Linked DNA regions of Homo sapiens: region 2 is linked to region 1. The links come from fine-mapping of genetic effects on gene expression. Tissue or cell type: lung. Region 1 holds a variant in brackets; the other region holds the start of a gene. All regions are shown on one strand. Distances are between the middles of the regions.

Region 1 (8,106 bases):
CAACTGGTAACTGTTATTTAGTTTTCTTTTGCATAAGTAATACTTGCACTGTGTGTGTGTGTGTGTGTGTGTGTGTGTGTGTGTGTGTATGTATAATTTTTTTTTTTTGAGATGGAGTTTCACTCTTGTTGCCCAGGCTGCAGTGTAGTGGCGTGATCTTGGCTCACTGCAACCTCTGCCTCCCAGGTTCGTTCAAGCGATTCTTCTGCCTCAACCTCCCAAATAGCTGGGACTACAGGCACGCGCCACCATGCCCAGCTAATTTTTGTATTTTTAGTAGAGACGGGGTTTCACCATGTTGGCCAAGCTGGTCTTGAACTCCTGACCTCGTGATCTGCCCACCTCGGCCTCCCAAAGTGCTGAGATTACAAGTGTGAGCCACCATGCCCAGCCTAATGTATACAATTTTTAAAGCACAGAGAAGTATATAGTGAAAATTCTTCCCCTTGCTATCAGATCAGCACACTCTTCAGAGGCAGCCATTGTTATTCTTGTATATCCTTCCAGAAATACAGGATATTAACAGTACAACAAAGAATTTCATTGTTTACACATCATTTTATGCTTATGTAAGTTTCCCTGTAGGATAAATTCCTAGAAGTAGAATTGCTGAATCAAGGGATACCTGCATTTGCAATTTTTGTAGATTTGGCCAAATTGCCCTCCAATGAAATTATATTAGTTAACACCCCCACCACCAATGTAGGAGAGATTTTATGTAATTTCCTAGGTATCATTGATAATGTTTAAGAATTTCTTATTGCCAGGCTGGGCATGGTGGCTCGCGCCTGTAATCCCAGCACTTTGGGAGGCCGAGGCCGGCAGACCACCTGAGGTCAGGAGTTCAAGACCAGCCTGGCCTACATGGTGAAATCCTGATTCTACTAAAAATACAAAAAAATTATCCAGGCGTGGTGGTGGGTGCCTGTAATCCCAGCTACTTGGGAGGCTGAGGCAGGAGAATTGCTTGAACCTGGGAGGCGAAGGTTGCAGTGAGCCGAGATTGCACCACTGCACTCCAGCCTGGGAAACAGAGCAAGACTTTTTTTTTTTTTTTTTTTTTTAAAGACAAATTCTTATTGCCTATATGAGTGATCTAATCCTTGACAAATGAGTTTTCATTTTCAGTATATAGTTTGGTGAATAAACTCTTCTCTACAACAACAGTCTGTACCACACTGGCTAGAGTTATAGTGAAATATGGTTAAGTACTGAACCCTTTCTTAGACCCTATCAGATCCAAAGATACTGAACATTCTCCAGTGCTATCAAATCTTTGGAGAGAAAGTTTACCATAGCCTTTCCTTCCTTCTCTTTCCTTTTCCTATCTTGCTTCAAACATAGAAAGAAGTACCATATGAAATAAGTAAGCCTTTTTAGGCAGTTTTTTCATTCCTTAGCTGAGAGTAGAAGAGTGTGCTGCAAAAGACCTTCATAAAATTGAATAGGTAACATAGCAAAATAAGCTACAGTGTGGATCTTGGAATCAGACAGACTTGAATTCTGGTTCTGTGTGCCTCTTAGCTGTATAATCTTTGATATTTAATATTTATAAAATGAGGATAATAATTCATAGGGCCCTATTCTACAAAAGGACACTGTTTTTGTCAAATCCAGACACCTTCAAAGTAAGGATAAAAACCCAGGGAATGTTAGTTCCTTTTTAAGTCTGTTTTGTGATTTATAAAATGGGATAAATAGTCTCTTCTTCACGAGTTCTTGGAATAATTAAGATATACAAACACATTGGCACGCAGAGCACCCTCAGTAATTGTGAATTATTTTTTACTGTTACTGCAGTCATTTGATGTCTGTTGAAGGAATTATAGCCTGCATGGACTTACTGTGCACTGGAAGGAAGGGAAATCTGCTACCTGGTGGGTTAAAGCATTTTGCTTTAAAAGGTCGTTAGTAGAAGGCAGGCTGAGTGCTGGGTGCGCTCAGGTGTGACTGACTGCAGGACACCAAGAAGAAATGGGGTTTGAAGTAACAGCTCCCTTTATCCAAGCCGAAAACTGTGACGCAAACAGTGCTTTCTAAATCGCTGTGAATGGAACAACCTATTAGGGAAAGTTTCCATCTGGAGTACTGGTAATGAACTCAAATGAGAGTAAACTGCTGGAAAATTGCAAGAGCAATGGAAAATAAAAAGGGTGCCTAGATTGAATGAGTTAAGGTTGTATTATACTTTAGTTCAGAAACAAGTTATGGTGACTGGAAAAAGTTTAAGTAATTAATTCTAGAGTAAACTGTGTTAGATTAAATTTATTGGAGGGACAGCTCAAATTCTGTATTAAATCTGTGTAATTCTAGATCTAGGGTCAAGATTTAGATGAGCTCTCATCGTCTAATCCCAGTAGAAATTCCCTTAAGACAATTAGGACCTGAGAAACTCCTAGAGTAAGTAAGAACCATTCCAAATTGTAAGAAACAGTATTTTCTGACTGTATAAAATCTTGTTTTTCATTGGCCTGTTTATCTTTGCCCCTGCCATTTGTCATGTTGGTTCTCTTTACGCATTACAGCTTGAAAGTCATACCCTGATAGCTAGAATTTTAGACTCTTCAGTTAAATTCAGGCAATATTAATTGCATGCCTATTGGGTACCAGGCAGCATGCTAAATGTTAGGCATGTAAAGACAAGACGTTGTCCTTGCCCTCAAAGTATGCATAGCCTTGGCAGGTGGTATCAGTGATACTAACGATGGTGATAATCTAGCTAACATTGATGAAGCACCTGCAATTTACTCAATAACAGTTCTTGGTGCTTTGTATATATTAACTCAGTCCTCACAAGGGTCTTGATGTAGGTATTAATAGTATTATTTCATTTTACAAATGGAGACCCTGAGGCACAAAAATTCGAGTAACTTGCCTAAGGTCAAGCGGGTGAGAATTTGGAGCAAAGCCCTCGATTCTGCTATGCCAGACAGTTCCTGAGTTATTTATGCTTTGGTCAGAGCTTAGCTTATTAAAATTATGATTTTTAAAAGCCCACTTTTCTTTAAACCTTAAATATACTTAAAAATTCACTGAAAAATTTAGTTGGGTGTTAATATTAAAAATGCCTATTTGCTTGTTTTTTGACTGATGCTCAAGCGCTTTTACATTTGACAGATGAAATTCCTCTATTAAATACCATTTACAGGCTGGGTGCAGTGGCTCATGCCTATAATCCTAGAGCTTTGGGAGGCTGAGGTGGGAGGATCACTTGAACCCAGCAGTTCAGGGCTGCAGTTATCTATGATTGTGCCACTGCACTGCAGCCTGGGTGGCAGAGCACTACCCTGTCTTTAAAAAAAAAAAAAATTATAAACTTGACTAGAATTCCTTAAACATTTCAAAACATGCTTACAAATTTAATATATCTGATATCCCCAGGCACTTCAAACTTCTTCCAGTAAATCAACTACATAACTTTAATAAGTCAAATAGTCTCTTAAGAATTTTAAACATTTGAAAAACCAGAACATATACTCATGAGTGTAATGGTTACAAAAATGATGATTACACTTGCTTAAATACAACTTATACAAATATATCACTACCATTTATTCATTCAGGGGTTACAAATTTACCCAACCAAGGTGGACAAAATTACCATTTCGAACCTGCTATAGAGTTTTGGGGGTGGAGATTTAGGACTGGGTCAATAACTTTGAGGCTTATTTATTGGGCTAAGCTCTTTCATAGTGGTGGGATTGTCCAAGCCTGTACCTCTTGTGCTTACCCAATTTTTGACCACAATCTCTTACCTGCTCTAGAGGGAATGGAATTCTGCAGACCCTACTCAAACTGTGTCTTTACTGACTGATTTGCACTGATAGAACTGTGTCTAATAAATACTCATGTAATAATTTGGATTGATTTATAACACTTACAAATTATTGGAAACTCATGTATGTCATAATTCCATACCGAGGACCATCTCTAGCACAAATAGTACCTTTGTGTGAATTAACAGAAAGGTGCCCGGCCGGCTGCAGTGGCTCACGCCTGTAATCACAGCACTTTAGAAGGCCAAGGAGGGTGGATCACTTGACATCGGGAGTTCGAGACCAGCCTGGCGAATGTGGTGAAACCCCATCTCTACTAAAAATACAAGATTAGCCAGGCGTAGTGCTGCAC[G/A]TCTGTAATCCCAGCTACTCGGGAGGCTGAAGCAGGAGAATCGCTTGAACCCGGGAGGTAGAAGTTCCAGTGAGCTGAGATCATGCCACTGCACTCCAACCTGGGCAAGAGAGCAAGACTCCATCTCAAAAAAACAACAACAAAAAACAAACAAAAAACTCAGAAAGGTGCCCCTCTAGGTAGATGAATTACAAAAGCTCAAAGTTAAGCTCACCCCAGGCCTGGCTGGATTTTAATCTCTACTTGCCCCCTTACAGCTTTTAAGATTTCTCCCCTTTTAAGTACCATTAAGACTGATGAATCTTAACTGAATTGTCAGATTGTCATTTGAGCCTTTAAACTGGCTCCTTTGTAGACTTTCTGACAGAAACAAGATCTAGCCCCATCTAGATTCCCACGCCCCCAAGCCCCCCGCTTCCCCCAAGGCTAGAATCAGCTATTCTCCATGGAGCCAGTTGCTTTTGTGGTAGAATAGTATTAGGTACTGTTAGATACATTAGTGATTTCATTGCATATCAAATTTTTCTGTTGGATTACTGATACGGTTCTCTAGTGACAAAGCTCTAAAAGATCTCTTTTTAATGGGTCATGGTGTTTCCAGTGTAATTTTAATCCTTTAAAAATCTTTTCAATATTTCAATATTTCAAAATATTGAAAAGATTTTTAAAGGACTTATTTAAGTCCTACTATGTGGCAGACAGCATTCTAGGCACAGAGGAGACGGCAGTGAATCAGGTCATGTCCCTGCCTTCGTGGATTCAGTATCTAAGTGGGGAGCAGACAAGCCTTACATCTACCCCCCACTTATTTTCAAGCCACAAGCTTGTTTCCTGTGTCATTTGCAATACTTATTTGCCAGTTTTGATATATGCTGCCATGCCAAGCGGTGTGATTAAATTACAGTGTCGTCTAAACTTTCTATGATGTAACTGGATGTGTATTAACCAATTCGATCCTGGTCTTGAAGCCAGGCTTCGTTTGTAATCATTCAGTGCCTACTTGATGATCCTTCTATAGTTCAAGCATTCAATAGGGAAGACAGCGAATGGAGGCCAGTTCTTCACATTGCCTCACTCTTGCCCGTAGCCTCCTTTCCTGGGTGTTACTCCTCAGACGCTCTGCTGGCCCCTGCTGCTTCCTGCCCTGTTGTTTGTTTCTTCCTTTTGTTTCCTCCATCCAAAAGCCCCAATCTCACTGCAACATAGGGCTTTTTTTTTGGGCGGGGGGTACTTTGTCATATAGTTTTGTTTCCTTTTTTTTTTTTTAACCAGGTTAAAAAAGGGTGAATCAAACACTTTTCTCCTTCAGGTTCTCTTCAAGTCTGGTGTTAAGTTCTCTCAGTGGAGTAGGTATTTGTGAGGCCCAACAATACTTGGAAAGGTTTTATTCCTTAAGCTTGGTGGTAAGAACGTGGATGTTTGTTTTCTTTTACGCTGTTCGTCGTGTCTGAAATCTTTTGTAATAACTTAATGTTTTAATGTTCTGGTCTGATAACTTCTGGAGGAGTGGCAAAAGATGGATTATTAACAGCTAGTAGACGAATGCATGAAGACGTACGATGGAGGATGTCATTAGGTGTCTACTATGTGGCAGACAGCGTTCTAGGCATGGAGGAGACAGCAGTGAATCAGGTCATGTCCCTGCCTTCTTGGTTTCAGTATCTAAGTGGGGAGCAGACTAAGCAAATAAATATGAACCAAAACATCAGATGCTGGCAGGTGGTATGTATGGCAGAGAAAGGGCATAGTGACTGGGCAGGGGAACTGTTTTAGATAGTGGTCAGCAAAGGCCTTGTGAGGAGGTGACATTTGAGAAGAGACCTGAATGAAGTGGGGGATAATGAGTGTGAACATGTGAGGAATTGCTTTCCAGAAGTGGAGACAGGAAGAGCAAAGACTCTTCTTGGATAGGACTGTGTTTGATAAACAGCAAGAAGTGCCTAGAGAAAGGCAAGCCAGGCTGGGCACAGTGACTCACACCTGTAATCCCAGCACTTTGGGAGGCTGAGGCAGGTGGATCACCTGAGGTCAGGAATTCAAGACCAACCTGGCCAATGTGGTGAAACCCTGTCTCTACTAAACATACAGATTAGCTGGGCATGGTAGTGGGCACCTGTAATCCCAGCTACTCGGGAGGCTGAGGCAGGAGAATCACTTGAGCCTGGGAGGTGGAGGTTGCAGTGAACCAAGTTAGCACCATTGCTCTCCAGCCTGGGGGACAGAGCAAGAATCTGTCTCAAAAAAAAAAAAAAAAAAGGCAAGCCGCCAGGCCAAAATCGGTGGGCTGTGGCACCATAAAGATCCTCACGAGCTGCTCTAGTGGGGAGGTTTGGGAGAGTTTTGAGCAGGGGAGTGGCAGAATCTTACCCTTTAGAAAAGATTACTTTGGCTTTTCTGCAAAGGACTTACTGTGGAGAGCAAGGGTGAGACAAAGAGATCAGTAAGCTGTTGTAATTCAGGGGAGAAAGAATAGTGACTTGGACCAAGAGGGTAGAGGTATGGGGGTGGTGAGAAAAAATCAGATTCTGGATAGAAAAAGAGAAGAGGTAAGGATGAGGCCTAGGTTTTTGGCTTGAACAACTGGGTAGATGTTAATGCATCCTTCCCCTCCTTAAAGGAGGAACATATTTAGAGAAAGAAAGTGTGATATGCTTGGTAGACAGCCAGTGGAGATACTAAGTAGGCAATTGGATGTATAAATCCAGAATTCAGAGGAATGATCTGGAGGGAGACATAAAAGATCACCAGCAGATAGATAATGAAAATTTTGAGACAAAATGAGATCATTACTCAAATGAAGAAGTATAGACAGAAGAAAAGAGATCCAAAAGTGGAGGTTCAAGAGTGCTCTGATTTTTAGAGGTCAGGAATGAGAAGCTAGTACAGAGGATTGAGGTGGAATCTCCACTAAGGAGAACCAGGAAAATATGGTGGAAGCAAGGTAAATATACTCTTCTTTCCTTTTTTTTTTTTTTTTTTTTTGAGATGGAGTCTCCCTCTTGCACTCACTGCAACCTCCAACTCTCGGGTTCAAGTGATTCTCCTCCCTCAGCCCCCCGAGTAGCTGGGATTACAGGCATGAGCCACCACGCCCTCCTAATTTTTGTATTTTTAGTAGAGGTCGGGTTTCACCATGTTGGCCAGGATGGTCTCGATCTCCTGAACTTGTGATCTACCACCTCAGCCTCCCAAAGTGCTGGGATTACAGGCGTGAGCCGCTGTACCTGGCCTGTTTACTCCTTTCTTAAAAGGATATTTACGGCCGGGTGCAGTGGCTCACGCCTGTAATCCCAGCACTTTGGGAGGCTGAGGCAGGCAGATCACTTGAGCCCAGGAGTTAGAGACCAGCCTGGGCAGCACGGCGAGATCCCATCCCTACTAAAAATAGAAAAACTTATTCAGATGTGGTGGCATACACCTGTAGTCCCAGCTACTCAGGAGGCTGAGTTGGGAGGATCACCTGAGCCAGGGAGGTTGAGACTGCAGTAAGCCATTATAGCACCACTGCACTCCAGCCTGGGCGACATAGTGAGACCCTGTCTCAAAAAAAAAAAAAAAAAGAGTAATGAAATACTGAACAAGATGAGGGCTAAGAATCATTGTATTTAGCAAAATGAGAGGTCATGGAGATCACAAGAGGGGTTCTATTGGACAAGACTAATTTGGAGCATGTGGAAGAGAAATGAAAGTTGAGCAAGTGGGGACAGTGAATAGAGACAGCTCTCCTAAGGCTTTTGGTGTAAAGAGAAGTAAAGTAGAGTGATAGCAGGAACCAGATAGGGGACATGGAGAAGTTTTTCATTTTTAAAGATGGGAGGTATTTCAGCCTTTGGGTGTGCTAATGCAGATTATCTGGGAGAGGAAAGCCTGTGATGATGGAGGCGTCTCACCATGTAGCATTCTGTGGCCTCCTCCCAATCCTGTGGAGGTGGCGGTTAAGGGAAGGAATAGTTTTACCAGGAGCAACTATTAAACATA
Region 2 (8,105 bases), 180 kb before region 1:
CTCCTTGAGTCAGTTTTTTTTTTTTTTTTGAGACAGAATCTTGGTGCAATGCCCAGGCTGGAGTGCAATGGCATGATCTCAGCTCACTGCAACCTCTGCTTCTCGGGTTCAAGTGAGTCTCCTGCCTCAGCCTCCCAAATAGCTGGGATTATAGGCATGCGCCACCGTGCCCGGCTAATTTTGTATTTTTAGTAGAGACAGAGTTTCTCCATGTTGGTCAGGCTGGTCTCGAACTCCCAACCTCAGGTGATCTGCCCACCTTGGCCTCCCAAAATGTTGGGATTACAGGTGTGAGCCATCTTGCCTGGCCTAGTTTTTGTATTTTTAGTACAGACGGGGTTTCACCATATTGGCCAGGCTCATCTCGAACTCCTGACCTCAATTGATCTGCCCACCTCGGCCTCCCAAAGTGTTGGGATTACAGGCGTGAGCCACCGCGCCCAGCCCTTAAGTCAGTTTTTATTGTACACCTACTATGTGCCAGGTTCTCTGCTTGGTTTTGAAGCTTCTACAGTGTGTAGAATGGACTCCACCCTGCTCTTGTGATTACTTTTAGCCTAACTCATATTCTCTTCTGCTCTATCACCTACCTTGTAATTTTCAAGTATTTTATTCAGCAGATCATTTCGTATTTTAACATGGCTCTTTAATTTTTCCAGGGTTTTGTTGGGGAAAATCTGGGAAATAAAAAGAAATGTTAAATCCACCCTTCTTCCATTTTGCTTCTCCAGCTGCCAGAGTCTCTCCTGGAGGCGGATCTTAGCTTTCTGTCTCTGGAAGTTCCTACTCCACCCCTGACCTTCAGCCAGAATGGAAGGCAAGATGGGGACACAGAACGGGTTTATCATGACGACGAAGACAATTCTAAACAAGGGAGGAGGGCGTGGTCTCCACCTCTCCTTCCCCATTCAATCAAACATCAAGCGCTGACTCTGCTATGTGTCCAGCCCTTAGGAGTGAGAGAGACATGAGCCTGAAGGCTCAGACAAGCTCCTTAACCCCGCTAAGCCTGCTTCTCACCTGCACAATGGGGATAATAAAACCTACTTCCAAGGGGAATTCAGCGATGAATGCGTATAGAATGCTTAGTACTGGCACATGGTAATTGGAAAAGAAATGAAGGTCATTATCTGGAGTACTAAGGTGCATAATTAAAAGGCTAAATCTATCTCTGCAGAGAAATGGCAAAGGTTTTAAGTGGCAGAGGAGGTAGAGGTGGCGGAGGTAATCAGGAAAAAGATGGGTCATTGCGGCTGGAGCAGGGAAGTAAAAAGGAAGGAAGATTGGGGACAATGTCAGGGTCTACTAGAACCTGAAGGCAGGGCTGGCAGCATCTCACCTTCAACCAGGGGACTAGGTCCACCAGGCTGTCTTTGCTCAGGTTGTCTATGATGCCTTCATTGTAATTCTGTATGACATTCAACTCAGGGTCCCCATTCTTGTAGGAGGTATTGAAGCAGATCAAGGAGATGACATTGGTTACCGCCACGAAGACAGGAAAGGAGATGTCTATGGACTGTCCGTTGTGGGTGGCCAGCATATCACACAATGTACTGATTTCCTGACAAACTGAAGGGAGAGGGGGCATGAGGGTGGGAAATGAATCAGCACCCTTACCCCCTCTCTGTACCAGTTGCCTCTTAACAGGAGCGGGGGACAGATAGCAGATGGCCACTAGATGGCAGCAGTAGCCAAGAAAAGGCTGCATTGCGCTCTAGTCCTAACCCTTACCCCTGCCCAACCCTCCTCTCCCTCCAGCAGCTCCTGTGGGATCCAGCCCCAGCCCCAGGGGCCAGCCTGGCACTCACTGATCTTCTCCAGCTTCTGATCGCCATCCTTGAACAGGGCAAAGGTGGCCATCGCCAGCCTTCGATGCAGCTGCCAGTGTGCGCCAGAGTCAGCGAAGGCGATACCCTTACGGTTGTTGGACGCGATGTCTAGAGTTGCCTTTAGAGAGCAGGCAAGGCTGTAGGAATCTCACACCATCCACCCCACTCTTGCCCTTACACCTCTGGTCCCTGCTTTCCTTCCTGGAGGAGAAGGCAGGTACCTGGCATGCTGACTCCCATGTGGGCACAGCCCCACTGCACTCCACCATGACTGCAAGGACTTGGTAGGACAGACCCTAAGGCCTCCTACTCCCAATTCCTTCAGAAATACAGTAGATCAAGGAGAAAGAAAGAACCCTTAATTAGAATGCAGCAGCATTGGGGTTCTTTTCGCTGACAGGGTGCCCTCTGGGCTTCTTTTTGCTCATCAGTTTCTGACCACAGGAAGGCAACTCTGGATGGGATAAACTCTCTAAACTATGCCTGTCCAGAGGGTAGGGAGCAGGTGAGCTTGTAGAGGCTGAGGACTGCACAGATCTCTGCTTTTCCCTGAGCCCTTAGCTGAGCTAAAGGCACAGCTCACCTCACTCAGGTTTACCCTTCCATTGCAAGCCTGCATACCCAGCCACAAGCCCACATTTGGAGAGTGCAGATGTTTTGTCTACCCAGTCTGGACTTGGGCCGAGCCGCCTCCTCCTAGAGGTGCCCCCCAAAGCAAAAGGGTCCAAAGCCTCCCTTTTCCATTTCCTGACCCTGAAGATCCACATGACTAGCCTTCTCCATCTTCTCTGCCCCCGGGAGGAAGCCAGCAGAGGTGGGAGCTAGGTAGTTGGTCAGCAGACCTGGCTGATTGGTCCAAGAAAAAATAAACCAACCCTTGGCTTGATCAAAGCTGAGAGGCTGGCAGGGCACAGTGGCTTACGCCTATAATCCTAGCACTTTGGGAGGCTAAGGTGGGAGGATCACGAGGTCAGGAGATCGAGACCATCCTGGCTAACATGGTGAAACACCATCTCTACTAAAAATACAAAAAATTAGCGGGCATGGTGGCATGCTCCTGTAGTCCCAGGTACTCAGGAGGCTGAGGCAGGAGAATCACTTGAACCCGGGAGGCAGAGGTTGCAGTGAGCTGAGATTGGCCACTGCACTCCAGGCTGGGCGACAGAGAGAGACTCTGTCTCAAAAAAAAAAAAAAAAAAAAAAAATGCTGAGAGGCTGGGGGCCCTGCTGAGTGGGAGGCTCATCAGCAACCCTGAAATGTCATTGTAGAAAACTGCCCCTGTGAGCCTGAGTAGCTGGAAATAGCACCAGGAAAGCAGCAATCCCAGCCTGCAATAGCTAGGCTAATTCTCCCCAGCAGCTTTCATGGAGGACAGTAGTCACTGCCCCCATTTTCCATGAAAAGTAACATGAATCCTGGCTGTATAAGGGGCACTTACTGTGCTGGGTGCTAGGCTAAGTGCTGTACATGCACCTTCTCAGTCCATTAGAGAAGTCTAGGCTCAGAGAGAGGAGTGGAGTGAGGATTCCTTGACCCCTCAGACCACTGTGGTCCTCCCATCCCACCTCCTGGGCAGCCTGGTAGAGGAGACATTCCTTTAATTCTTCCTGCCTAATTTAGAGGCTGGGTGGGGGTCTGAAGGTTCACTCCCTTCACATCATCCCACTAGTCTACTTTGGGAAGAATTACAGGTTGTTGGAGCTGGAAGCCCCATTCTAGGCATGGTCTGAAGACCTGAACAATCCCAGGGGGTGGTGAAGGGGGCAGGGAGGAGATGGGCACCACTTACCATTTGAGGCCGCCCAGAGAAGTCCTTGCCCTTCTTAATAAGCACCTCCTTGGCCAGCTGGTGGTGGCCGACAATCACTGTAGTCTTGGTGCCCATACGAACCGAATAGATGGGGCCATATTTTTTCTGCAGCTTGAAGAAGTTGTTATGCATATGGCCGTGTCTGGGGAGGAATGGCAGGCTGCCCACCAGGGGCAGGGACAGGAGGCTCTTGGGGTACTTGGCACCAGGGCACCTTCTCTTGGGCCAAAACAAATAAGCTAGGGTAAGCAGCAAGAGAGCCACGAGCTCCCACATGGTGGCTGGGTGCCGGCAGGCAAGATAGACAGCAGTGGAGTAGAAGAGCTGTGGCAACTCTAGGGCACAAGGAGGCCTTTTAAAGGGCTACCCTGATCTTCACCTTGACTTTGTGTTATCTCTTGCCTTGTGGAAAGATTCTCCTGGAGCCCAGCCAGGCCTGAGCTCATATCCAGAAGGGAGAGAGGCGGTGGGAGTGAAGGCCTCCTCAAGGGCTGGCTCAACTCCAGGGCAAACCTCCGGAGGAGGAGCTAGGTAAGGGAGGTCAGTTGATCACCCTCTGAGGAGCTCCCCATGCTTGAATGACTCCAGAGTGCGAATGGTATCTGGGCTCAGGAGTCAAGGCTTGGAACTTTCCATGTTGCAAAATCAAAATCACTGGACAGATGACAGATTCAGGAGGGTCACAAGTAGCAGGGACTGTTAAAGGTCTTTTATGCTTCTTTTTTTTTTTTTCAGAGTCTTGCTCCATCACCAGGCTGGTGTGCAGTGGTGTGACTGTCCATGCAGCCCTGGCCCTCCAGCCCATGTGGTTTTGGCAGCGATAAGGGCTGTGGGTTAATGGTCCCCAAAATAAAAATGTACATGTGTATGGGAACGAAAGGGGTGCTAAGCTGTGGGGAGCGGTGGAAGGGAAGGGAGAGATAGGTCAGTACTAGGAATGCCAGAGGTGGGAGGCCGTTTCATAACATTTCTTGTTGATCAAAATGCCATCAACACCTTCTTTGCTCATCAGCAGGACTAGCGTACTGGGGGAACCCACCCCCAATATTTCAACGTAGGTTCTTTCTATAAGTGTCAGCCGGCTGAGAAATAAAGAGAGACAGTATAAAGAGAGGAATTTTACAGCTGGGCCGCCGGGGGTGGCATCACATATCGGTAGGACTGTGATACCCACCTGAGCCTCAAACCAGCAAGTTTTTATTAAGGGTTTCAAAAAGGGGAGGGGGTGTAAGAACAGGGAGTAGGTACAAAGATCACATGCTTCAAAGGGCGAAAAGCAGAACTACTAATAAGTGTCTAACAAAGATCACATGCTTCTGAGGGAAAGGACAAAGGGCAAAAGCAGAACTACCGATAAGGGTCCAACAAAGATCACAAGGCAAAGGGCAAAAGCAGAACCACTGATAAGGGTCCAACAAAGATCACAAGGCAAAGGGCAAAAGCAGAACTACAGATGAGGGTCTATGTTCAGCGGTGCACATACTGTCTTGATAAACACCTTAAACAACAGCAAACAGGGTTCGACAGCAGAGAACCGGTCTGACCACAAATTTACCAGGGCGGAGTTTTTCCCCACCCTAGTAAGCCTGAGGGTACTGCAGGAGACCAGGGCGTATCTCAGTCCTTATCTCAACTGCACAAGATAGACATTCCCAGAGCGGCTGTTTATAGACCTCCCCCCAGGAATGCATTCCTTTCCCAGGGTATTAATAATAATACTCCTTGCTAGGAAAAGAATTTAGTGATATCTTCCCTACTTGCATGTCCATTTATAGCCTCTCTCAAGAAGGAAAATATGGCTCTTTCTGCCCGACCCTGCAGGCAGTCAGACCTTATGGTTGTTTTCCCTTGTTCCCTAAAAATTGCTCTTATTCTGTTCTTTTTCAAGGTGCACTAATTTCATATTGTTCAAACACATGTCTTACAATCAATTTGTACAGTTAACACAATTATCACAGTGGTCCTGAAGTGACAAACATCCTCAGCTTACAAAGATAACAGGATTAAGAGATTAAAGTAAAGACAGGCATAAGAAATTATAAAAGTATTATTTGGGAACTGATAAATGTCCATATTAAAATGAAATCTTCACAATTTATGTTCCTCTGCCATGGCTCCAGCCAGTCCCTCCATTCAGGGTCCCTGACTTCCCGCAACATCTCTCCCTTTCTTTTTATATAAATGTGCCGTGGCGATGAAGGCTTGCTCGTTCTCTCGGTTTTGATGCAGGATTCTTTGACTGGTCTGGCACACTAAAAACAAGCCGATTAAACAGAGAAACATGATTCCAAAATTTCCTACAGTGGAGCCCCCAGTAGACTTAATCCAAGTTGTGGAGTTTAGTCCAGAAAGACTTTCTGCCACCTGATCTAACGCCTCAGCTCCAGGCACAATGGATAAATGAGCTTGAGAGGCTTCAAAAATTTGTTTCTTTAATTTAGTTATGTCCAAGGATAAATTATCTTCCCTACCCAGAAGGTGTCCTTTGACCATTTCCCATGATCAGTCTCGTTGTAGGAATATGGTGTGCTATAGAAATCAGAAGTGTTGCAATCGAACTGCATTTGCATGTGATGTTCGAGACTCATTAGCTGGTCCCCAAGCCAAATAACAGACTGTCTTAAATCATTAGCTAATTTTTGATCAATGCCTTGTTGAGGATTCCACATTTGGGTGGAATTGCCTTACCAATCATTAACAAAATTAGCCATTTGAATAGATTGGTGTAATGCCACTCCGGCAGTGGTGGCCAGTGCAGTGACTGTAATTAGGCCCATGATCACAGTGATTAAAGTGAAAACAAATCTCTTGATCTTTTGAGAATTCGTTGTAACACTTCATTAATTAAATGTACTGAGGGGGAAGATTCCCAAGTTCTGGGTAAAGTTACTGGTATCCAGATTCCTTCTCAAGCTCGAACCAACATTACACTTTTCCTGAGTCAAAACGGGAGTTAACACAAGTGGATAAATGACAATTAATGCATTGGACGGTTTGATTGTTCATCCAAATTTTGATATTTCCCACTAACAGCATGTAAGGAGGCTTAACACAACTCTGTATAATAGTCAGGCTGGAGGTAAACAAAGCAGAATGTTTGAATCTACGTTGATACCGAGGGGGAGGAGTGGCGGTGGCAACGCCCAATGTTTGATGCCGTAAAGAAGCAATCCGAGGTGCCCGGGGATTCTGAAGAGGTAGGGGGACATACCTGGGTCCAGAAGAATTATCATAATGCCAATCAGAGTCCCATAAAGGAGGACTGGCATCAAAAAGAGGAAAATGGTCCAAAGGGGATTTATCATGGGTTTCAGAATCACGGATGTGAGGGGTGGTAGTGGGGACAACAGAAAGAAAAGTTTCCCCTTCCCATACTCGCAGTCTGGACATGGCAATAGCCAATTTCCAAAGTTCTGGGTGTTCTGGGCTCAGAATGGGGGATATCATAAGAGGCCTCGGGTGGCAGGGGGTAATGCTCTTATCTTCCCATTTTAAGGGACAGAATGAGCTGAACCTCCTATGCAAAGTAGGATGATGATCCTCGTCCTCCCAATAAGAAATAAAACAAGTAGCCTCCAGGCATTCCCTTCCAGCAGAAGAGCAACTGCTTTTCAAATAGCCCTTTGGTGCCCAGTCTCTTACTAAACCATATGAGTCATTTTTTAATAGTACTGCATGTGAATTAACACAATCTTCCCAAATTAAAGATTTAGATGGGCCCTCAAAAATTTTAGGACATGGTTTTCCTACAGGTTTATATTGAAAGTAGGGGGTATCTCCTATTACTCCCCCTTTCATTTGTCTTAAAGGAGAAAGGGAGAGGCTGGAGACCAAATGTCCCCGTTCCCCTGTGGCTGATCTCTCCAGAAGGTACGCAGCCCAGACTTGAGTTTCTAGATGGATACAACAAGGTGCATGTCCGAGGCACAGAGGAGGGTATTTATAACCGTAGGAACATTAAATGCAGTGCCTTCTTTTCCTGGTTGAGTGGGGCAACGGTCATCTGTAGCTCCAGGCATCCACACACTATCATTAGTATAGATTTCCGCAGGAGCATCCATCCAGGTGAGAGGTTGAATAAGTGGAGGAAAAGGCACATAAGCCCAGCAAGAATAATTTTGTGTAGCAGGTAAATCAATGTGAGGGGAAACTGGTGAGACAGAAAGTATAAGGAAGAGAATTATTAAATAAAACCTATTGTAAGCAAGATCCAGTGCTGAAGGAGGAATAGAAGAATAAGGGGATGTTATTTTCAGGCTAATAGAAATGGTGAGATTTTTAGGTTCGTAAGGAGAAAAAGAAAGGGAATTAGGAGAAGTGGGATTAGTTAGAGGGGTTTCTGTTGCCATTAGGGAGGATTGAACCAGACCCATTTTGATTTGGCGTGCCAGTTTCTGAGGAGTTGGCACAGATCTCACCAGGTATGAGGGTGGTCTCTGACGTGGACGTCTCTTCCCTGTGGTTT

Evidence for each region. PIP is the estimated chance that this variant, and not a neighbour inherited with it, causes the effect.
Region 2: CYP17A1 starts here. The variant in region 1 is fine-mapped to the expression of CYP17A1 in lung (TOPMed, PIP above 0.99).

Annotation. Positions count from the first base shown.
Region 1 is chr10:103,011,598-103,019,703 of GRCh38, forward strand. The region is part of intron 1 of CNNM2 (cyclin and CBS domain divalent metal cation transport mediator 2); the gene reads left to right. Among named protein-coding and RNA genes, the nearest start is that of CNNM2, 97 kb to the left of the region's middle. The variant G/A (reference allele first, on the strand shown) is at 4,129.
Region 2 is chr10:102,833,446-102,841,550 of GRCh38, forward strand. CYP17A1 (cytochrome P450 family 17 subfamily A member 1) reads right to left here and starts at 3,968. Exons shown (of 8, transcript NM_000102.4): 1 at 3,620-3,968; 2 at 1,809-1,947; 3 at 1,340-1,569; 4 at 591-677. The coding sequence starts at 3,916. It overlaps CYP17A1-AS1 (CYP17A1 antisense RNA 1), which reads left to right. Exons shown (of 2, transcript XR_428804.2): 2 at 732-1,059. RefSeq lists a promoter at 3,928-4,207.